Linked DNA regions of Homo sapiens: all the other regions are linked to region 3. Evidence: fine-mapped expression QTL. A gene starts in region 3. Each other region holds a variant in brackets. All regions are shown on one strand. Distances are between the middles of the regions.

The links. PIP is the estimated chance that this variant, and not a neighbour inherited with it, causes the effect.
Region 1: its variant is fine-mapped to the expression of CLDND1 in whole blood (INTERVAL, PIP above 0.99).
Region 2: its variant is fine-mapped to the expression of CLDND1 in whole blood (TOPMed, PIP above 0.99).

The regions. Positions count from the first base shown.
Region 1 is chr3:98,543,967-98,552,153 of GRCh38, forward strand. No RefSeq gene overlaps it. Among named protein-coding and RNA genes, the nearest start is that of GPR15, 16 kb to the left of the region's middle. RefSeq lists a silencer at 2,208-2,257 and an enhancer at 8,140-8,187. The variant T/C (reference allele first, on the strand shown) is at 4,865.
Region 2 is chr3:98,560,347-98,568,533 of GRCh38, forward strand. No RefSeq gene overlaps it. Among named protein-coding and RNA genes, the nearest start is that of CPOX, 29 kb to the right of the region's middle. RefSeq lists an enhancer at 1,926-1,975 and a silencer at 3,030-3,089. The variant G/A (reference allele first, on the strand shown) is at 4,457.
Region 3 is chr3:98,519,196-98,527,382 of GRCh38, forward strand. CLDND1 (claudin domain containing 1) reads right to left here and starts at 3,707. Exons shown (of 5, transcript NM_001040181.2): 1 at 3,654-3,707; 2 at 1,938-2,247. The coding sequence starts at 2,229. CLDND1-AS1 (CLDND1 antisense RNA 1) reads left to right here and starts at 3,375. Exons shown (of 2, transcript NR_198998.1): 1 at 3,375-3,638; 2 at 6,016-6,692. It also overlaps the pseudogene RPL38P4. RefSeq lists silencers at 3,154-3,263, 3,314-3,953 and an enhancer at 5,156-5,285.

The DNA.
Region 1 (8,187 bases), 25 kb after region 3:
ATAGTTGAGGAAACATTCCCATTTTATAGATGAAGAAAATAGCCCTCAGAGGAATCGTTTCACATAATTATTAATGTAATGAACCAGAAATGAAACCCCAATTTCAGTTAAGCTCAGACCTACGTAATCGCAAAGCTCATGGCCTTTCCACTTCACTGTATTCTTTCCTGATTCCCAGATTTTCTCTTTCTCTCTCTCCCCACTACCTTTGCCTAATTGCAATAATTTTCACTCAAATTATTTTTCTTATTTTTTCCAAAGCAAATATCTCAAATAAACAAATCCTTTGCCTATTCACAATTAATACTAAAAAAAGATGTTTCTTGAGGGAAGAGGAAGTCCATTTTATTAAAAATATAACTTTTTCTAAAAACTGTAACATGTTTTCTTTTCTGTTATATAATCTCTTAATTGTGATCTATCACAAATGGCATTTTCTATCCTACTGATGGCCACTTGAAGCCTGTAATTGATTCAAAAGTATGTTGCACATAGGAAATGGACAGTTATCTATTTTGCTCAATGTAACACCCAAGTCCACACTAAAGCACAAATGCTATGACACCTATGACAGTGTCCTTCACCAGAAAATGTTTTTTAGAAAGAGTAGATATGGCTTGAACCTGGGAGGCGAAGGCTGCAGTTAGCCAAGATTGTGTCACTGCACTCCAGCCTGGGCAGCAGAGCAACAGCCCGTCTCAAAAAAATTAAAACCAAAAAAATGGTAGATATGTACTAAATTCTATTATCTCATTTTCTCTATCCCTTAAAATTTTTCTGGTCACAGATTTCTTATATATCTATGGCGACAAAGAAAGAAAAGTAAATGTAATCCCAAATCTCACGCTCTAGATTTTGTGCCTGTGACATATGGAACCTAAACTGACATTAGGAATTTAAACTTTTACCATCTTCTTTATTAAATGTTACTTGTTAAGACAATGAGTTGCCTTGGGCCACGTGCAGAAGAAATTTGGTAGACAATGCCCTTGTCTTTCGGGAACTTCATTTACACTTTTGGAAGGCACATTTGTGTTAATAATTTCCTCGTTTTAATAGCAACTCCCAATTGTAGTTTTAAGAGATAAGGGTTTCTCTATGTAGTATATTATAAACTGCCCCAAACATAGAAACTTGATTTAAAGTTTCTTTAAGTAAGAAACAACATTTTCTGTGTATCACTTTTAAGAGAAGTTAAGGATGTTATGAGGTAAAATAATGAGTTAATAATCATTGACCCACAACCAAAGAGAAAAATTAAACATAATTTTGAATAAAAGAACATGATACCAGAGTATTAATCCTAACATTTATTTTTAACATTAAGGAGTAATTATCCCAGCTTACTTTATTTAGGAAATATATTAAAATGTTAACAATGGCTGTTCTAGGTAGTAGAACCAAGGGCAAATTTATTTTTATCCTTAATTTGTTTTTCTTCATATTTTTCTGAATATTTTACATGTTCTATAATGAGTATGTACTTTTTTAAAATGTTAAAATAAAGGATGCTGAAATAAATGTCATGCATCACATAAAACAAATATTATTTTATTATATATTTATCTATTATATAAAATATAAATATAATATTTATTTTGTATATTTATTATATTACAATAATATGTACAAGTTTTGCCTTTTCCTTCAAAGTCAAAATAAGAATTTTTAAATGTCATGTCCAATTTTAAGTTTAACATCCATGACTTTGATATAATTTAAGTTCTGAAAAAATGATGTAAATTAAAGCTCAATCAAATAATATTTGTTCTCATATCAAACAGCAAATCATTGTTTTGATTCAAAGCTTCAATTTTACTTTTACTAAATTGACTTGTCTGTTAAATCAAAGGTCAATTTAATTTGTTTATGTAGACACAACTTCTATTTTATTTTAAAATATTTCAACTTTTAAATTAAGTGTAAATTAGAATTGGTTGGACAGAATAATACTTTGAGTTTTACTGTTTTTTCCAAATGTTCTATTCTAAAATATTTGCAAAGAGCATGATATTTTATAAAACTACAAAGATTTTTAAAGTAAAATATTTCTAGAATAAAATTTGTATTTAAGCAGACATAAGAAGAAAATGTTGACTCTGAGTGCTTTCGCTTTCCCTCGGGTTTACCTAGAAAGTTTTCTAGCTTCAAGGATGTCTGAAGATTGCTCACTAAGCAGTCAAGGAAGGAGAACCACTAGTCTGACATCAATTTTCCATTATAACGGTACAGCTTTGTTACAAGAAAAATGCACAGGGCAGATGACTTGCACCGAGTATCTACAATTCTCATTGCAATGATTTCTAAAAATTGAAATTAAAAACAAAACCTATGTTTATGGAGTATTTATTTAGCACCCGGGAACTGTTAAATCATTCACATATATTATCTCAATTGAATTCACAAAACAACTTGTGAAAAACAATCTGGGTACCCAGTTCTCCTCCCTTTCCTTTTTTCTCCCCATGCAAATCAGACCTCAGTCTGAGGGTTCTCCCATGTCTTCTAGCTCCCTTCCCCAATTCTTGCCTAATCCCATTTTGGGGTCTTCTGTGCAAACCTGAGCTAACATATATAGAACAATTTTTTTTTCTGAGAGAATATAAATTTTCTGAAGGTTCAAACATCTTTTTGAGAAATGCTTTCAAGTATGGCAAAGACATAGCATACTATACAACGGAATGATAAGTGTTTTCTACATTTTCATGCTACTAAAGTCATATATTAAGCAAAGTAGAGAATTGTAAAAATGTGCCCCTAATGTGTCTCTTGGTTAACTGGCTTTATAAAATAATCCTCAATGACTTCTTAGGCTGTATAGGTAGTAATTTTTAATACTATAAATATGACTAATATCATTACTATTACTAGTGTTTATTTTTTAAATAAACACTAGTTTAAAGTTATTGAGTTTTCCACTATTTCCAAACTTTTTTTCCTATTTCCCTGGAAAATTACAATGAGGAATGCCTTAAAAATAATGAGCTGGGGCCGGCCACGGTGGCTCACACCTGTAATCCCAGCACTTTGGGAGGCTGAGGCAGGCGGATCACCTGAGGTCAGGAGTTTGAGACCAGCCTGGCCAACATGGCGAAACCCCGTCTCTAATAAAAAAAAAAAAAAATACAAAAATGAGCCAGGTGTGGTGGCTGGCACCTGTAATCACAGCTACTAGGGAGGCTGAGGCAGGAGAATCGCTTGAAACCGGGAGGCAGAGGTTGCAGTGAGCCAAGATCACACCATTGCATTGCAGCCTGGGCGACAAGAGTGAAACTCCATCTCGATAATAATAATGATAACGATAATAATAATAATAATGAGCTGGGTACAGTGGCGTGTCTGTAGTCCCAGTTACTAGGGAGGCTGAAAGCAGGAGGATTGCATGAGCTAGGAGTTCAAGATCAGCCTGGGCAACATAGCTAGTTCCCCTTACTAAGAAAAAAAAAGGAGGGTAAAGTAAAAAAATATACAATATGATAGTGTGATAGAGTGGAAAACATAAAGGCTTTAAAATTAGAAAAACTGAGTTTGAAACCATAACAGCCTACCACTAGCAAAGTCTGTGAGACCTTCGACAAGTTATTAACATTTTTCTCCTTCAGTTTTCTTATCTGTAAAATGAAAATAACATTATTTAACTTGGGGTTATTGAAAACTCAGTAAGTGAGGCGACTTATGTCGGTCTTACAAGTAATGTTTGTTTTTATTTTATATTCTTTTTTGGCCCTGTATGCACTGAGACAGATCTATAAATATTCAAAAATGAATTTTGATTTAAAGATAATTTAATTTAATTGCGGAGACAATGTTTATCAAGCTGTTGTTGGAGGAATGTATATAAACTCTATATAACATACATTAGGCATGATATATACTTACCCACATATGCAGACCTATTAGAACCACAGCACTCATCTGTGACTAATAAATTTATTTTAGCCTCTGGGCAACAAACTTTATAAATTATATTTCAGAACTATTTTTGTAAAAAGCATTATGAACGCATTTTATCTATATCCAGTGCTATAAGAGAAAACACATTTAGAAAGATAAGATCATTCATCCCTATACCTGTGGCTCTTTTCCCTTAGAAGTTTCTCTTAGTAAAGTTTTTCATCTGAGTTGATTAATGTAGATGTGTATATACATACAACTATATCAAAAATTATATATAAAGAGAAGGAGGGGGACTTAGGGATCTACTTAGCCACCGGTTTTGCTCTGAAGATAGGAGAAAATGCTAGCTTTAGACAAGAAGTTCTCTCTTCAAAGGTCAAGAGCTTTTCTTAATTTTGATAGCTCTGGCAACTTGTTCAGAAAAATCCACAAGTCTAGATCTGCAAATGCTTGAAATGCTCCATCGGACAGACCAAAAATTCAGAATACTACAAACACTCACGTCTCTGCAGAAAAAGATAATCTATATTACTCTTTCCTCTTGCCTATAATTTTAGTGCCTGCAACCCTGCCCTCTGGGACGATCAACTGATTTGGGCGAGATGGGTAAAGGAGGACAAAGAAAGGGGAGGGAGGGAGGAAACAGCATCATCATTGTCGCTGATTTCCCATTTATTTTAGTAAAAAAATTTGTCCTCTGAGGTTTTTGTATCTAAGATGACAAGCCAGGTAAAAACCTAAGAGATTGGGTAGACTTCTCAGGAAGTGTTATAGTAGCAGGTGAAACCCTGGAGAAAAACCCATACCTGTGAGGGCATTTGAACCTGTCGGGGTGGGGAAGTGGGAATGACCTGTGTCTACTACTCCCTTCCTCTCTCTCCATCCTTGGGTAACCTGGCCAACGGCAGCTGCCGGAAATGAATGACTTCAGCCACTGAACCATCCTTAGGCGAATGAATGGCTTCCA[T/C]CTTAACTCTAATTTTCCTTTAGCCAATTCTGTTTTTGTGCCTCCTGAGTTCTCGTTAAGGTCAAAACAACATTAGTGGTTTTTAAGGTGTTAAGTTGGTTGTCTTTTTCTCACATTTTACAAGCAAAACACAGAAAATGAGAAACAACAAGAAATCCCTCATGGTCTTAAAAACAATCTATTTGAAAATTTCAGCATGCAGATCCAGTTAAATTTAAATTCAGTTAAATTTAACGTGCCAAATTTCAAATGGAAATTTGGTTCTCTGCATTTTAAAATGTGTAACAACTGCTTACGATATTCTATTTGAAACATATCACAATGTACATGATAGAATTAAAGGGTCATTTATATAAATTGTTATAGACTACAACACAAACATTGTTTTCAGAGGAATTCTTAAAATCATCTAATCCAATCCACTCATTTTTAAAATGAGAAAACTAAGAGAAATGGAGAGTCTATTCAGAAGCAAAATCACATTGTGGTTTTAAAAAAAAATTCAGCTGGCACACATGGGTACAAGTATAAAGGTTGTTAAAATATATTGATATATTTCTGCTTCAGTTGGTAAATTGCCACTGCCCTGTGTCCTCTGAGTGCCCCACTCTATCATGGTCTTCTGTCACCTTCCCTAGTAGCTTTTGGACACTTCAATATAGCAACTAAGGAGTTAACACCTTGCAAACAAGAGACCCTTGGGAGCCAGGCTTCTCCACTGAAAGCCAGGTCCTTTCAGATTGGTTGATTGCATAAACATGCAGACAGATAAATAGTTTTTGGTATCTCCCCTGCATGCAGTCAATGGCAGAAATTTAAATAATCAACGGTGGTGGAAACTTGACAGTTGACCCAGCATCCATTCTCATGCTTTCATTTTTCTCAAAATAATTCAGGACTCTTATGCCTAGGCAGTCATCTATCTGGTCTTTCTCATGCAGCTCTTGTGTTTTTGTAAAAGTTGAACCCACTCTTAGCCTCCTGGCAAAGCCTTGATAGACTTCACTATAAGGTGGGCATGTGACCAACCAACCAGGCTGTTTGGAATGCCAAGACAGCATTGCTCTCTCTTTCTCTGTGCCCTATTGAAGCCACCCTATGAAACAAGAGAGCCAGACTTAGAATAAAGTTTACATGGTTGACTGTAAAAAGAAAAGACAAAGTCAAAACTAAGCAAAATGAAACAAAACAAAACATAAAAATGGAGTCCTTGTTGGCATGACTGAGCTTCTAGATTAACCAGCCTACACCTGAGCCTTCCAAGTAACTGAACCTGTACACTTCTTTTGTTATTTAAGCCTGTTTGAGTTGAATTTTCTTTTACCTGAAATCCTAAAGGACTTACCTTATAAACTAGTTCCCCACCAAAGCTTTGCCAAGATTCTCTAATACAATCCTTTAGTTATATGATAAGGTAAAATTTCCCTAAATATGTTCTGAAAAGTACTAATTCCAAGAGAAATTAATAATTATGGTCCTGAAGAGGAACAGCTCAATAAACAGAGTTAGACAGACAGACCTGGATTATTTAACAAAGATTTGTGGTATACGCAAAACATAATTTTTATTTATTATTCCCATTCTAACCTTTTAAAATTTATTCATTAGGGCACTCTTCTTCTGCCCTTGCCTGAAGAATTTGGCAGGTCCATTGACTTTTCTTCTTACTCTTTGGGAAGAGCTTTGAAGCATAAAACACAGTGTCAATTTCGTTCTTTCCTTCCTCTCACTATTCACCTACTCACCAGCTGCTCAAAGAAAGGTGGAGTGGGGGTAAGGTTACCAGATTTAGTCAATAGAAATACAAGATGCCTAGTTAAATTTGAATTTAAATGAATAGTAAATGATTTTTTAGTATAAGTATGTCCCAAAGATTATTTGTCCATCTGAAATTCAAATCTAACTGAGCCTTATATTCTTTCTGATAACCTTAGGTGAGGCAGAGAGGAAAGGTAGGGGGATTTGGTTTGTTGAGCAACTTCCTGTTCTTTGGGCATGGCAGATAGCGAAGGTTATGCAGTTGAGCCAATTTTATGGGTTCTTTGAACATCCCATCATAGGAGACATCTCCAACATCAACTCTCAAGACTTAAGTGATACTCCTCATTCCCCAGGATGCCCACCCCTCTTTAGCCTCTGGTCCACCAGCAGAGGGACTATACACCAGTTACTACCCCCCATCACCAACCCTTGGTTCACAGGCAACAATGAAGCATCTTTGCCCCCATGCAAAGTGGATTCCTGGCCTGATCATCTTTGCCCCCATGCAACATTGCCAAAGCATCTTTGTCCCCACGCAACAGCGAATTCCTGGCCTGACCATCAAAGTCCTAATGAACCAACTTTTGTATTTAGACTTTTCAGGAGAGAATCAACTTGTCTAGAGTGCTCTGGCATACTGCAAACACACTTAAGCTCTTTAAGAGTAGTCCCACGGAAGCCCCTCCCAGCTTGCTGGGCTTGGTGTAGGAGACAGTAACTTTCCCAAGTGGAAAAAGCTGAGGCCCCATAGCACAGCTACTAGTCACTTTTAAGGAAAGCTCACAAAAACCCTCTCTTTATTCTCTGACGGGATCCAAGAGTTTGGAATCCATTCCCAGATATTATGCTTGTACCATCTGCATATAGTGACTTAGCAACAACTTACTTGAGATTTTTGCATTTATTTTATCTTTATGCCTTGTTGAAATTTCAATTTTAACATTCTGTTATATAGCTTTCTTTTCTGGGAAAATTCTCACAACTTTTAATATAGCATGACTAAAGCAAACCTGAAGGAGAGCTGAACTGCCTTCCTAGACTGGCTGTCTCATGCATGACCTCTACTCCTATTTGCCGAAAATATCCTCCCTATAACAAAATAATGGCAGGAATTTTAGGGGACTGGATTATTGTAAGATTCCTGGTGAAACCACAGTCCTCAAACCATACCTTGAAAAAATTCCTGCAGGAGTTAAAAACATTTCCCTTTATTGTATTCTTCTAATCTCCCATCTCATTCTACAAAACTCCTCCACAGAGGCCTTTGCTCCTCAGGCTTCTTATCTAAGTAGTGCCACGTGTCAAGTCCAAGGTCCCTGAATAGAAAGATTAGACTGGGTAAAACAGGAGTATGGCTTTCATGGGATCTGGGACCTATAATAACCTCTAACTATGAAGTTTAGGTGAGAGGCTTCCTCATCCGGCTACAAAGACCTCAGTTTCTTAGGTGTGAAAGGAGGAAGTTGAACTACGTAGTTTCAAATGACCCCTCCAACCTGAAAAACAGATGACTTTGATTCTAAATTCTTCAGGGAGTAGGACATGGATGCTGCAACAGTCTT
Region 2 (8,187 bases), 41 kb after region 3:
ACAATAAAAATTTCAAAATGGGGAAAAACATGCATACTTATAAAAAAGGGCTAATTTTCTTATTATACAAAAAGCTCTAATAGCAAAAAGATCAATTCAATATAAAGCGAGTTAAGATATAAATTGGCAGTTAACAGAAATATAAATATAAATTGTCAATGAATATTTTATAAATGCTCAACCTCCTGCATAACTAAGTCCAAGTTGGAAAAAAAAAAACTTTTTTAAAAGTTATAAAATGGCAAAATTATAGTGTGAGCTTCAATGTTGAGGGTAGGTATGGAGAAGCCCACTCATTCACTGTGGGACACTGTTAAATTAAATTGCATATTATTAAGTGAAATTTAAAATTCACACTCTTTTCAACTATTTTCAATTCTATTCCTAAGAATTTGTTTTACAGACTTTTTATATTCTCACAAAAATAAGTAGACGTGGATGATCATTGTGACATTGTTTGTCTATTAGTTATCTACTCCTGTGCTTAAAAATTACCCCAAAACTTTAAAGTTTAAAGTCATAATAGACATCATTATCTCATAGAGTTTCTGTGTCTCAGTTATTGGAGAGCAATTTAGTTGAGTGGCTGTTTCATGGGGTTGTAGTCAATGTGTTGACAGAGACTGCAGTCATCTCAAAGTCTGACTGGGGCTGGAAGATCCAATTCCAATTTGACCTGTGGGCTGACAAGTTGCAAGAGGGCCAAGCTCCTCACCCCTTGCCTCCCAATATAACTGTTGGAGGATCTTCATGATAAGTTAACTGGCATCTCCCAGAATGAGTAATTCAAGAAAGTACAAGGCAGAAGCCACTATGCTTTTTATAACCTAGTCGTGGAAGTCATATGTTGCCATTCGCACAATGTCTTCTTGTTACACAGGACAGACTAATTCAATGAGGGAAGGGAATACACAAGGAGATAATGCTCATTGGGGGCCATCTTTTGAGACTGCCTGCCACAGTTTGGAAGGATGAAAAAAACAAAGAAAGGAAAAGTATCTTAATATCCATTGATAAAGTACTGGGTAAATAAATTTTTAAACTTAATTAAATGTTATAGAGCATTTAATATATTAATTAAATGTTATAGAGCTTTTAATATATATTTAATATGTAATATAAAATTATAAGGTGTTTATTAAAAAGAAGGAAGCAGCCTAAATGTGTTGCTATGGAAAAATGCCCAAAATACACTAAAGTATATAAAGCACATATTTATATATTTATTATAAGACTCCTTCAATATTTTTATAAAAATAGACATTTATGCATAGTTATATGCATAAGAGTGAGAAATTTCCTCAAAGATGTATAAGGATCTATCAGTGGGTGGTGAAACCTGGGGGTGAGATAGTGGTAGGGATATGTAACTTTTTATTTTATGCCGTATACTTATACTAGTAATGTTTGAAAAAAAACTTACAATGAAAATGTATTACATTTATAATATTTAAAACTAGCAAAATTATGCTCCACAGAGCTCTACAGGACACATAGCCAAAGGGGAATATCATTTGAGCCAAGCTCAGACAGACTTCTCCCTGACTATCTCCTGCTCAGAGGAGCTGAGTATGTAGGCAGGAGAAACATACGTTGGTTTTCTGAATAGAGAACTGAGAGCTACCCAATCTCTAGTCTTCAGCCTTTGCAAAGCTGGATTAACAAGATGGTAATTATCCCAAAAGTAGAATTCTATTGTGGCATATTTCTCCCTATTCTGAAGCCATAGGGTCCATCAGAGAATCAGGAAGCTGAGAATCTGCAGGGATGGCAGGGTATGCAGTCGGCAGCAGTTACACAGGATCACACCACAGTGGAAAACCTCTCAGCACCTTGGTGTTAGCAAAACTCAGCTCCAGTGGATTTCCAAAGCATCCACTACTATTACAGCAAGGCCAGGGCATCTGAACACCTGTCTTAGAAGATTTTCAGGAACTGTAGCGGCTGGGAGTTGAGTGAGCACTCTTGGTGGATTACCTTGAAGTGATGGAGACCCAGGTCAGCCTGTGCTCAGTTGATTACAAGGCCAAGTTGGGGGTTTGAACCCTCAAAAGAAATCCTCCACTGAGTTGAGGAAAAGGATAGCTGAGAATTGTCTGCAGCGAGAAACCACAAGACCTCTGAGTCACAGAGCTTTAAAGGAAGCCTTCTAATAGCTGGTATCAAAATGCAAATAATATAAGAATTATACAGATGCAGTTAACATTTATTGAAGACTTATTTTTCATCTACTAATTATACTCATTTTGTAGATGAAAAAGATGAGAATTGGAGAAGTTAGGCAATCTTCCCAAGGATATTACACATCCTTTAAATTTTTCAGTTTTAACAAATGATTCAAAAATGTCTTTTTAAAAAAATGAAATTTTGATCAAACATTTTAAGAACTTCTGAAACATTTCTGCACAAGACAATTTAAAAACCACTGCTTTGCTATTTAACCACTGGAACCAGTAGGTGGAATTTACGGAAAGGTAGATTTCTGTTCAATATAAAATATAAGTTTATTCATAACTAAATTATCCAATTATAAAATGAAATTTTCTGAGGGGTAGTTAAGTTCTCCATCACTGGAAATGTTCAAGCAGAATCACTATTATTACCTCTTAGGTATATTAGAAGTGTGAGCAGCATACAATTGGATTTCCTTCCAAAACTAAGATCTGATGTTCTCTGAAAAGAGGCTTCACTTTTCTTTCTTTCTTTCCTTCTTTTTCTTTCTTTCTTTCCCTCCTTCTTTTCTTTCTTTCTTTTTTTTTTTCTTGAGGTGGAGTCTCGCTCTGTCGCCCAGGCTGGAGTGCAGTGGCACAATCTTTGCTCACTGCAACTTCTGCCTCCCAGGTTCAAGTGATTCTCTTGCCTCAGCCTCCTGAGTAGCTGGGACAGGCATGTGCCACCAAGCGCAGCTAATTTTTGTATTTTTAGCAGAGATGGGGTTTCACCATGTTGGCCAGCCTGGTCTCAAACTCCTGACCTCAGATGATCCATCTGCCTCGGCCTCCCAAAGTGCTGGGATTACAGGTGTGAGCCACCGTGCCTGGCATTCACTTTGTTATCTCTCAGGTTAAATTGAGTCAAAACTTCTGATTACAGAAGGCTGAACTAAGTATATTTCCTGAAATTTTGGAGTTTTAATAGTAATAGTAAACATGTATAAAGCACTTACTATGTGCTTGGCACTGTTTTAATTGCTTTACATTTGTTAACATAGGTCATCTTTTCTACTGTCCTATTGAGGTATGTATTATTTATACAGAATTACATTGAATTCTAACCTCAAAATCTAGCTACCAAGTCCATGTTCTTCAGCAGTTTGTGATATTTATGCTACATATAGTGATACAGTTGCAAGTATATGACCCTACAAGTGGATAAGAGTTTAGCTAAAACACTGCAAATAAATGAATAAACAGATGCAGGAAGTGGTTTGTTGCATAATAGGGAGTTTCTATCCATGTTTCTATAGTTGTGTCACCAAACCACAGGTTGGTACTTTGAAAAAAATCAGTGCTATAAAAGCTTTCGTATCATTAACATTCCTTAATTCTGAACTCAGTAAAAGCTTAATCAAAGATGGTATTAGGAGAATACAAGTTCTCTAGCATTTTTTATTTGTTTGTTTCCATAACTATAGGATTTGTTTTCAAAGAGTAACAACCATAAGACATTTACAGTTCCTTTCTTGAATGCAAATAATGGTTAGGGGCTGGAGGCACCTAAACTGTGAGACAAGGTATTGATTCCTATTGAGCTTTCATAATTCTGGGTGAGAGTGATGTCAGAGGCCAGACTATTTTTTTTTTTTTTTTTTTTTTTTTTTTGTGGCAGGGTCCCTCTCTGTCGCCCGGGCTGGAGTGCAGTTGTGTGATCTCAGCTCACTGCAACCTCCACCTCCCAGGCTCAAGTGATTCTCGTGCCTCAGCCTCCCAAGTAGCTGGGATTACAGGCACATGCCACCACACCTGGCTAACTTTTGTATTTTTAGCAGAGACTAAACAGGGTTTCACCATGTTGGCCAGGCTGGTCTCAAACTCCTGGTCGCAAGTGATCTGCCTGCCTTGGCCTCCCAAAGTGTTGGGATTGCAGGTGTGAGCCACGGCACCCAGCCCAGACTACCTTTTGCTCAGCACTTGGCTCTGTGGGGGTGAGCAAAAACTTCAACCCTCCACACCTCAATTTTCTCAGGCATGCAATGAGAATAACTTCCTCGGGGTTATTTCAGATATTGACTAAGTTAACTTAAGTAATGTTAGAACACTGTCTGGCACCCTCAGTGTTGGGTATTAGCACTAGCTGGTGTGAAGAGAGATGGAGCATATAAATGTAAATTTAAGTTTACAAAGAGATAAATAATTTGACTGTTATGTGAGAGTCAGGTGAGAGTTACAGATACCAAATATACCTGGGTTTAAAGAGAGGTGTGACTGTTATGGGTGGCAGTGTTGTGGCCCACAGG[G/A]GCAGACTCTCAGGGTGAGGATACTTGAGCAGGGCCAGGAAATGAATTATTTTGTTCACCTTTGATGTGGCCCACATTCAAATGCTTCACAAGTACAACGTTCTCAGCTAAGCTAAGGTGGTCTTCGATACGCACTTGACCACAACGGAAAAAAAAAAAAAAAAACAAAGAATGAAAAAGTTAAACAACAGGTGGGAAGTCAATGCTGAATAAAAAATTAAGATACGCAAAAGTTAACATGTTATTTCCTTCCTAAATAAAACACATGTGCATACAAAAATACATGTATAATATTCTGATATATTTATAAATACCTATCCTTGAATTGTTTTTCACTTTTCCAGCCAAATTCCCTCATCAAATTACTGAATTTTCCTAGCTTAAAAATTATTATTTTTGATTTTGACTAGAGAAAGTGAAAGGCAATTTACTGCCACATCTATCTATATTACATAAACATACATGCTCATATATACTTTCCACTGGGAAGGGAAGAATCATGATATGAAAATGACTAAACTCTTTCTCTCTGACTGATCTAGTCTCCTCTTCTTCCTACCTTTAAAGTGCTGAACAGTCATTTGCCCAGCTTTCTATGTATCAAATATCTGATTGTTTGTTTTAATGTCTTCAGTGCGGCTTTAACTGATTTCCTGAATACCTAATGTCCACATAACACTTAAAAGCTTGTAAAACTCTTTCCCATATGTTATTTTATTGACTTCCCACAGTAATTTTTGGAGGTACACATTACTCATTCTCTTTTACAGAGGAGTTAAGAGTAGAGTCTGTGTGACGTCCCCTAAATCACACAGCTATGACCGGTCTGAAATATGGGCTCAGGTTGTATGGGAATACTACCAAAGATTTCAGAAATGATCATTATGCATTCACGGGTCCTCTGGTGCCTGGTTATAAAGTAAAAGGGTGAACAATTCAGATTTATATTTGAATCTCTGTCTATAAAGTTTTTTTGTGTTACAGCCACTTGTCTTACTTTTATTTCATTTTTGTTTTTTTTTTTTTTCTTCTATCTGAAAGAAAGCTAGAGAGTTATTTCCCCTCACAAGCTTCAAAAACCTGCCAGGCAGAGACTGATTCCCACAACCCCTCTCTGTGGTCTGGGCTTCAGGGAACAAGAAGTAGAGTGGCGGACCACATTCTTCCTCTAGTAGCAGAGACACACTGGACCACTGGGTCCTGGGAAACTTTTCCCAGGGACTGTCTTTATTGCTCCACTCTCACGACAATAACACACACTCAAACAAGCACTCACGTAACCCTGTATACAGCTGCATCAGCACCCAGAAAACGTGGCCTAATGTAGCAAAGGTAATTCCTACCGTAAAGTCCTTTAGCAGAAATGGTTCACGATGGGCCTGTAACAATGTAAGGAGTTTTTACAAAGAGCCAGGGGTAGGGCACAGGGAGAGGGTGGGGAAGGGCCATTAGGGGAGATGTAAGCGGGACACTCAAGATGGACCAGGAACTTATTTGAAAGCGGTAGTTAACAACCAGAAGGGAGAAGAATTTCACCCAACCCAGGAAATAGGAACCCGTGGCCTAACGACCCCTTGGGAATCCTGTGTCTTTAGCGGAAGGCGTGAGAAAAAAGGAGTAAAGTGAAGTATAACTGAAGCTTCAGGAATTAGAGAAAATGGAAAGGGTGCATGTAGGAAGGAAAAGAAAGACAAGGTGGAGGTTAAAGGCAAGTTGCAGGTTTTAGTGGCATGGTGATTAATTTTATGTCAACATGGTGGGGCCATAGTGCCCAGATATGTGGTCAAACGTTATTCTGGATGTTTCTGTAAGAGTGTTTTGGGTGAGACTAACATTTAAATAAGTGGACTTTGAGGAAAGCAGTTTGCCCTTTATAAAGTGGGTGGGCCTCATCCAGTCAGTGGATGTTCTAAATAGAACAAAAGACTGACCTTCCTGAGCAAGAGAGAATTCTGGCAGCAGGCATGAACTGCAGATTTGGGACTTGCCAGTCTCTATATTCACCAATTCCTTAAATAAAGCTATATACAGACATACACACATGCATCCTATTGGTTCTGTTTCTCTGGAAAACCCTAACTATCACAAGCAGGCTGTGGTCATCAAGCTACATAGGGAGGGATATGAAGCTGGTGAACAAAAAACAGGGATATAGCAGGAAGCCAAACTGCGGCTCTATTAGGCAGGCATTTGAACACTGACCTTGCTCTTGGCCTCATCTTAATTTCCCACCATTAGTTTCCCTTTGTCAACTTTTCTTATTTTCAATTGAATTCATCTCACTATATTTTATGCATTATTATATATGTCACCTTAAGTCCTTTCTGGGACAAATTAGAAGTATAAATAAATAGATTATTATCATCTGGAGCAATTATGTAAGACTAGATTTAGATTCTCTACAAATAAAGAAGAGACATGAATTACACAAATCTAAGAAAAAATGATGAAGAGATATAGATGATAAATGACATAAAATTTAAAAGATGTGCAGTAGAAATCCAAGGGTGTATGCAAGGGAAAGTAGTTTAGTCATAGGATAGAAAGTATTGAGATTAATCAAGAGGCTAAAACATCAAACCACAGAGATATAAGCAAGCAGCAAAAACTCTTCATTTAAAAAAAAAAGGTTTACAAATCAGAGAAAATGGATTTTGTGTTAGTATGCCCACCTAAATTTTTTGAACATTATATAATTAAAATATTTTCTGATGGGAGAAAATTAAAAGGTTCAAGAATGAAGATGTACGAGGTCATGAAAACATAATGCTGTGTTCTCTTTGTACGTATATACAAAGACTATAGAGTAAGACTTCTTACTCTAAAAAAATTCTGAACTAATAAAAATTCAGGTGTACTTTTGCCCTATGTCAATAAGATGAGTTGATGGGATTTCTGACTTTACCTAAGATTATAGCAAAGCACTAATAAGTTGAAGAACAATCAGCAGTTAACTTAGACTTTCACACCACAAAAGCAGAGTAAGAATGAGAGGACTCCACCCCAGCTACCCACACAAGAACCGGGCCAGGGTAAAATCAAACTCTGTTGTGGCCTGAGACACAGGGTTTGATTTTTACCCTGGCCAAGTTCTTGTGTGGGTATCTGGGGTGGAGCTACCCACACAATAGGAACAACATTGAGAGGAAGCCCAAAGATTTTTCAGGGAGAAGCATTCTTCAACTTGTTACCCATTTTTCCTAAACAGAAAGTGTCTTCAGTCTCATGCTTTTGCTTATCCCTGTGGTATTTACACCAATCAGACCATGAAGAGATGATGCTGTGGTGGCAGCACAAAAAAACTGTGTTGGAGTTTTGAAGCATTGATAGCATTTCCTTCAAGTTGTCACTAAAATATAATTTGAAGAAAATAAGGTAGACCTGTAAAAACCAGAATATGCTTTTCTTTTAGTGTCTTTCTATACAAACAGAAATATACCCAAGTTCCTCTGGAACTCACGAGATATCTTCATGATTGAGCCAGAGGGCTGCTGTGTTTAGAAAACATAACCCTAGACACAGTGATCATTGATTTAAATGTAACTTCTAAACTCTCAAGCAAAAACTTGAAAAAGGTCACACATCTGGACCATTGTCCAGCACCCACTTTATAAAATACCTTCCCCTGTACCTTGAGGTGTACAAAATCTGTGACTTAGTTTGCATTTTATAAACAATAGTTTTACTTATTATTAACATAGACAGAAAAGACATTTGGGCACCATGTATAA
Region 3 (8,187 bases):
AGGAAGAAAAATAAAGTGGAAGCAGTAAAATGAATGGCAGAATAGCTATGTAGAAAGCCTAGGAAGAAGGGGAGGGAACAAAGACTGAAATAAATAGGAATGTTGATCTTCTCATGCAACCGTGCTTTATCAACCATATTCCCATCTCAGGGAATGCCAAATCCACACTTCCAGTTCCTCAGACCAGAAACTTTAGAGTAATTCTTGTACATTTACACTCCATCAGGAAATCCCAGGAATTCTTCCTTCAAACTATGTCCAGAATCCAGCTGCTGCTCAGTGCTACCATTCTGGTGTGAGTCATAATCATCACTTAACCTGAATTACTTCTATAACCTCCTAACCATAGTCTTCTAGTTTCCACCTTTGTCTGCTGCCTCTGTTCTCACAACAGCCAGGGTGACCAGATCAGGGCTCAGCACTGTATCTGGAGTCAACACCAAAGTTCTCATTCTGCCTAGAGTCCTCCAGGATTTGCCCCAGTCCCACTCCCAAAGTAGGTCTTTAACAGCATACCCAACTTCCCGTCTCTCCCTCCATTCCAGCCCAGTGGCTTCCTTACTGGTCCTTGAATATTTCAGGCATGCTCCCGCCATAGAGCCTTTGCAGTAGATGTCCTTTCCAACCTAAATGACTTCCTCCCCATTTACCCATATGGCCAACTCTTTTGTCTAGTCTTTAACTACATTCTTTACTCAAGTGGTGTCTTCTCAATGAGACCTACTTTAAGTATCCTATTGAAAATCATAACCTATGGCCACCAATATTCCTTTTCCCACATATTTCCAAATCCCTTTTGTGTTCTATTTTGCCATAGCACATGTCATCTTTTAACATACTGAATAATTATTTATTCTGTTTATACTGTTATATTCTGTTCACTGCCTGTCATCCTTTATTAGAATGCTAGCTCCCCAGGAGTAAGGATTTTGTTCTTTCCTGATGTTCTCCCAGCTAAGAGGCCCTGGAACATGGAGACATGCAATAAATTATTTGTTTAATGAATGACTAAATGGTAACACTCCAATTCCAACTCCAATTTCAATATCAAGTGCTCCTGTAACCTCATAAGTCAAACTGAACATTTTACAATGAATTTTAACCAACTTTCTCTCCTTTCCTTCCAAATTATCTTTTTTTCCAGATACAGTGACATATTATCATCCTTTTGATATATCATAACTCAAGCCTGTTCTGCTATGATTTGAATACAATGCTTCCCCACTAAGGGGCCAACAGAAGTAGTCATAAATAAACTGTAAAGTTGTTCCTTACAAAGAGTTCTAAAGCTACCATTTTAATAACTGGAAATCAAAATCTTTAAGTGTTAAATAAGAATGCCTGTAAAATAAACCTAAAAATCTAGTTTTTGGTTTTTTTTTTTTAACTTCTGTAATACAAATTTCTTAACCTACCAACTCTGCATCAAGATTGTTGTAAAACAGTCTCATAATTACACAGATTAAATGTAGAGCTGGTCAAATTATATCCTCTAAGACACAGGGGCAAATGATAGATATGTATTATAATACAGCTAACCCATAAAAGGACAATTTTTTGAGTTGATTTTCGATGGTAGTCCTTTTACTAGTTACCAAATATTTTTAAAAGTCTTTCGATGTACTTTTCCAACTATTTCTTTATAACATGTGTTAGAGTAATGAAAAGTATTTTAATGAGTGAGTAAATAAGAAAAAAAAAAGCCATTAAGGCTTTCCCAAGATAAGAAAAGTTCCTCATCCAACCAATATTGATGAGTACCATGGTAATGCAAAGAAGTTGGGGAGAGAAGGCAGTAGAAAGAGAAGATACACGATTTATTTCTTTAAGGAGAGAGAGAACCAACAAACCTGCTTACATGTAATTGGGCAATCATTACGTCGTTTTGTCTATTATTAACCAGGTGAAGAAGACAGAAGTTAAAATAAGAGAAATACCTGTCCTTTCTGGTGGGCTATACCAATGCATGTTTTTGGGTATGGTGATACACCGTCTCCACAATCCCACTGTGCCATTGTATCGAAAAAGTGCATCATTATAAGTCTTTTCATCTGCCTCATCACTAATGAATTCATCCCAGATGCTTTTATTCAAATCACTGGAATTTTCTTGAACTGGACTTCGATATTCATACCAGAAGTCTGTGCCAATGGAGGCTGCCATGTAGATGGTGGAAATGAGGCTAAGCACACAAGCAATTACAAATGCTGTAGCAAAACGGTTATCCATTCTGGCATTCAGACTGCTCTGTTTAGAAGTTGAAGAAAGAAGATAAGTTAGAGTTTACGGACAAATAAGAAAGATTATTTTGAATTATTCCAAATGCACCCTTTACCCAATTCCCCATCCCTTCGTACATATAACCATTAAGAATTTTTTTTAGAAAGCAAGCATGTTTTTAATTAAGCTTAAAACAAAACTCATTCTCATAAAAGTACTTATTGAATGCTCACATACCCAGGATGCTACGGAGACAGAGGTCTTGTTCTCTAGTCTATCACCTGCATACTAAAACAGACAACACTGAAATGGACATACACATTACAGATACAAACAATAGACATGCCCATGGTCAGCAGTGTACCGTGCACACATTTTAAATTACAGACTGAATTTTTGCACGAGCTGCAGAGGATTAAGTGTTCTGGGTTTGAGTGTTAAAAAGGCACAGGAAAAAGAAGCAGTGGAAATTGGCTTCTCCCAGTTTCCTCTGAAGAGGGAAGCCTCCTAAAACAAAGGTAAGAGTCAGGAGCCATACAGAAAACAGAGTTGAAGATGTTTGTTAACCCCGAGGGAAAGGTTGTTCTAGGTGTATAAAATAGCAAAGAGAACAATAACATGTAATAATGCTAGATAGCAATCTCTCCCTAATCCATTAAAGCTAAGCCAAGCTTCTTTACGCTGCCAAATGCTTCACTCCTATCTACTCTCCCGATTCCTTATACTTCTGAACCTCCTCAACAGAAATCTTGCTCTCTCCCTAAATCCTCAGTGCAACATACGTCCGCAAAAACTAAATGATCCCTCCTCAGCCAGACAGAAAACTCTCAACATATCAACACTCCCAAGGCGTGGACAGGGCTCAACGGCAGTAGTAAATGGCCGCGGTAAAATGACTCAAGGCAGATCGCGCTGAGTCAAATACTACACGGCAAGTATACACCGTGACCGCACCAAACACCTTACAAAGGTTCATGAAAACAGACTCGCAAACTGGGGTTGCTGAGTTTGGAAAATGGGAAGTGACTCAGGAAAGATAAGAGCAATGACAACGAAAACTCAAAAAGTTGGATTTGTATTTTGATTTTTTAAAAATCCCCCCTTCATCCTGGTGCTCTCAAATGACCTTAAAGGGTCCCAGCACTGGGAACGGCGGTTCGTCCAAGCCGGACGCCTGCAGCAGCCACCTCCTGGGCCTCACGGCGGGGCCGGAGAAGGCCAGGGCTGGGGCGGGGCAGCCGTGCTCGGCCCCGGGCCAGGGTCCCCCGGTACCCGACCAGGCCCCGCCCTAGAGGGCTCGGCCCTGGGACAAATCCGCCGCTCGGAACCCGCCCAGCCCGACCACGCCCGGGAAGGGGGCCCCTCTTCAAACCGCCGGGAACATGGAACCGCGACGCGACCCCTGCCCGGCGACGCAGGTCCCGCTCACTCACCGCCCATCCTCCTGCTCCGCCAGCTTCACCCTCTAGCTCAGACCACAGCACCCTACTCTCCCCGCGCCTCCTCTGACGCACTTCCCTGCAGAGCCCGCCCCCTCCATAACTCCCGCGCCTCCGCCCGCCCCCACTCCGGGCCGGGCCGCGGCCCGGGGCCGAGGGGCCTTGTGGGAGTTGTAGGAGGGACAGACTGAAAGCTGTCTGAGGCGGCGATAGGCATTCCTGGCGCCGCGCGCGGCGCATTGTGGGAGATGTAGTTCAGCTCCTCAGGGCAAGCCGGTACGCAGAAGGGAAGTCTAGGCTGTTGGATTCTTGCATTTTAGGGAGGAAGGGAGAATGGTCCAGAAAGTAAAGCGGGCCTGTTTCCGGTCATCTCGAGTCAATGACCGTGACTTGTATAACTTAGATCTGACTTTTAGGCCTGTGCTTTCCCTATCACACCACCCTGCCTCTAGATCTAAGTATAAATGAACAAAAATGGGATTCTACTTGTGAAACGTTGACCCATTTTATTTCCCTCTCCCAGAATCCCTCCCATTGGAGCAGAGCATCCTTCTGGTTTTATTGCATAAGTTTAGGCTAAGAAGTATGTGACCTGGCAGACAGTATCCATCAAGAATGTAATGATATTATTTGGGTTTCATAAAATGTGTTTGTAGCTGCCTTCTTTTTATGACAAGTGATACTAGTTTTCTATTGCAGCAATGTTGTTCCTTTTAAATTCTTTTCACTTATTTTAAAAACTATTAAGTTAATAATACTGAGGATACCAGATATGTCAAAAAATGAATAAAAAATTGTGGGTATAGTAGGAAAAAGACTGAAATTTGGGGAACATCACTCAAGCAGATAAGGTCATGGACAGCATTGGAGATTGCAGATGATGTGTGGCACAGGGGCAACAATGATTCTGAACCCTCAGGTTTAACACAGAAATTCATGGACAGGAAGCAGGGACATCTTAACAATAACATGAGTGGAACTATTAACGTGGCCTGGGACCAGCAAATGGTGGATTTCTCAACAGTAACCGACAGAGAAAGCTGACTCAAGGACCAGAGGGGCTCTCAAACCCCCACTCTGTCCCCTAATGCCTTGTAATTTAGCATAGGAGAAAGATGGGAGCTGCAAGTTGATATTAAATTTCTACCACTTTGACAGATTAAAGGCATGATATGTTTCTCTATCTGTACTTACATTTCTTTGACCTGAGTGGGTGAAACTGATATTCATATGCAGCACATAATAAGGTAGTAGCCAAATATATTCAAACATGACTCTGGATTTTCATATACAGCATATAATCAAAAAAAAATTTGTCAGAGGCACCAACTAGAGAAAGTGATGGAGAGGCACAGGCAAATTGTCAATGTGTAGTAAGACACATAAATGCCCTTATACTCCAGGAAATGTCTTCATCCATTGGCCTTCATTAGAAATCCCCTATTTTCCGCCGGGCATGGTGGCTCACGCCTGTAATCCCAGCACTTTGGGAGGCCGAGGCGGCAGATCACGAGGTCGGGAGATCGAGACCATCCTGGCTAACACGGTGAAACCCCGTCTCTACTAAAAATACAAAAAAATTAGCCAGGCGTGTTGGTAGGCGCTTGTGGTCCCAGCTACTTGGGAGGCTGAGGCAGGAGAATGGCATGAACCCGGGAGGCGGAGCTTGCAGTGAGCCAAGATCACGCCACTGCACTCCAGCCTGGGCGACAGAACAAGACTCTGCCTCAAAAAAAGAAATTCCCCACTTTCAGATTTACCTCTCCACTGAGATCATGTGGTCAGTAAACCAGGCAAAAGAGAAGTTTAAAGGAGAGAGAAGAAACAACTTCAGTCTACAGATAAAGGAACTAGAGAGAGTAACTGACTTGGTAGCAAACTTGGATATTAGAGTAACTGACTACCATGGTAACACACTTGAATATACTCATTTTGTGACTTTGGAGAATTAACCTTCTTTAAGTCTCGGTTGTCTTTTCTCCAAAATATGGATGTTGACAGTAGCATCTATCCCACATGATCATTGTGAAGATTGAGAAAAACATATAAAACGCCCAGCACAGGACCTGAGGTTTAGGAAAGAATCATTAAGTTATTAGTATTTGCAAATATTTGTTGAATATAATATTTGAGTAAGCTTAGTGAGAACAGTCTTTTTTTTTTTTTTTTTTTGTATTCTAATACAGTTCAAATCAGTGTGGCTGGTTCATTTCAACTCCTTCACTACCAAACTAGGAGGCAGGGACTGGCTTCAGTTTTTCTGCCTTCTCTTTTTCACTGATGACCAGGGTATAAAGATATCTGCTGCATCGAACTTTAAACTTCACATTGTCCTTATTTTTCTTGATCTTGACAGATTCAGCATCCTTTCATTGGGCTGTGAACAGAAAGTCCTTGATTTCCTCAATTTTCGGAGGCATGGCGACAAGGCACGCAGGGAGCAGGCGCGGACCGGGACAGCGTGCGGCGACCGGGAAAAACAGGACAGAAAAAGACAGACAGCTTTTAAAGCTCCTGGATTAACCCTAGAGGCTACCCCTAAATGGAGATAAGCCATTTATACAGAGAGGTGTTCCTGCTCGCTTCAGCAGGTTTGAGAAGCTCTGGACTAACCACCAAATGACTAGGAAAAATTTGCCAGGGCTAGTATTTTGGGCATCCCTGTTTAACCCTTCTCAGGAGATTCCCAGGCCTGGGATCGTATCATACACAAGTCGCCATGACTCAGGAGGTGGATGTTTCTGGGAAGACCTGCAAAGGAGGATGACACTTGCACCCTTCAAGTCTTCAGAATGCCTAGAAAACACTCAGGACGCATTTCACTGACCAACCTAGTGTGAACCTGGAGGTGTCTCTACGTGTTTGTGGTTTTGATCATCCTGAGAGAGGACCTGAACGGCCTCTTCACACCCAGTTTCACCAACCACACAACCGTATTTCTGGTTTATCTCTGCATCTTTGGTGTTTCCTAATTTCTATTTATGCTTGCTTGTTGTATGAGTAGGTAAAATAAATCCTTAATTAATTAATGGAGCTAAATTTCTACTTCTGCTTCTTACTCTGCTGTTTGAGAAACGGTAGCTAGCCTTATATTTTCACAAATATGAAAGATGATTTTGTGCAACCATGTAGAGATTATGGAATTTAGGTTTAAAAGCGAAGTTAAATGAGACATCTAGCTTAACTTGTTAAAGATGGTTCTAGTTTCAACCGGAAGGCATTATAGTTATAGCACATTTAAAATAAAACCGATAACTGAAAATCTAGATACTCAGATGTTGTAACTTGTTTTTATTATGTACTTATGAAACAACCCTTCACACTAGAATTTCCATCAATACTAAATTCCCCAATACATTTAATATTTTATTTTTAATTGCACATTTTTAGGAACTAAAAGTTATATCTACATTATAAGATATATTTACATTATGTTTCTTCATGTAATTTTTTTTCTGGTTGTTTCCCTTGTGAACTTTGGAGTTCAGAAAGGAAAAAAATGGGAATATGTACAATTCTGGGTTCCAACCAAAAACCATTTTTAAAAATGTACCTATCTTTGAATTTCCTTGCACCCATTCACTGTAGAACAATAACAGAATCAAGATCAAGGCAAATAGAAAAGTGCACCTAAAATGTCTCCTTTTTTTTTTTAGTAATTCCTGTAAAGTGCCACATATAGTAAAAAACTATAATTTTTAGATGCCCATGCTTCTGAAAGACAGTGAATGACCCATATGTAAATGAGAAGTTTAAGTTTAAATTATCCTTTATTTAAAAATTATCAATGGATCTTTGGTTAATGACCCCTTTCTGGACCCTAGGGTCCTCTTTAGTAAAACAGTTGTACTAATGATCATTAACACCACTTGAAGCTCTAAAATTTTACAGTTTATAATTCTACTGGAAGAAGAATAATGCAACTACAAAATACGGTTTTTCATAGATCCACAGCATTAGAGTTTCATTGCAGAATTTATATACCCTATACCTCAAGCCTAGGCAATGTACTAGAAGCAGAGATAGTGGCAAATGTAGATTGCAAAGGAAAAGGAGGAAGACTATATGCATTCTGATTAGAAAAGGTACCGAAAAACAGCCCTTGCTATTTCAAAGATTAACAGTAATTATGAAGGTAAAATTATGGAAGGAAACTTTTCTGATTTCTTCTAATTGACACTTATTAGTATAGAGTTATGAGTATGAATTGTGGGCCTCCCAAAAATAACTTTTCAAAAAAAAATCTTATTGCAGATAAGAAACTAATATAATCAATTAATTTAATTATTAATAAACTTAAGAGTCTTCATTGAGAGAGTCCTCTTCTCATCACTATCCGTCATACTTATTATGAGGCCATGATAATGATATTTTTCACATTTATTGGTTTGCAAGTTGCTTCTGATTCAACAAGATGTGCCAAGTGAAAACATAAGCATAAGTTGACAAAAAATGTGCTGCATTAACTTAGAAACATCTCTTCATATTAGTTTATGATGTGACAAAGATCCCAGGACTGAATAGAAAA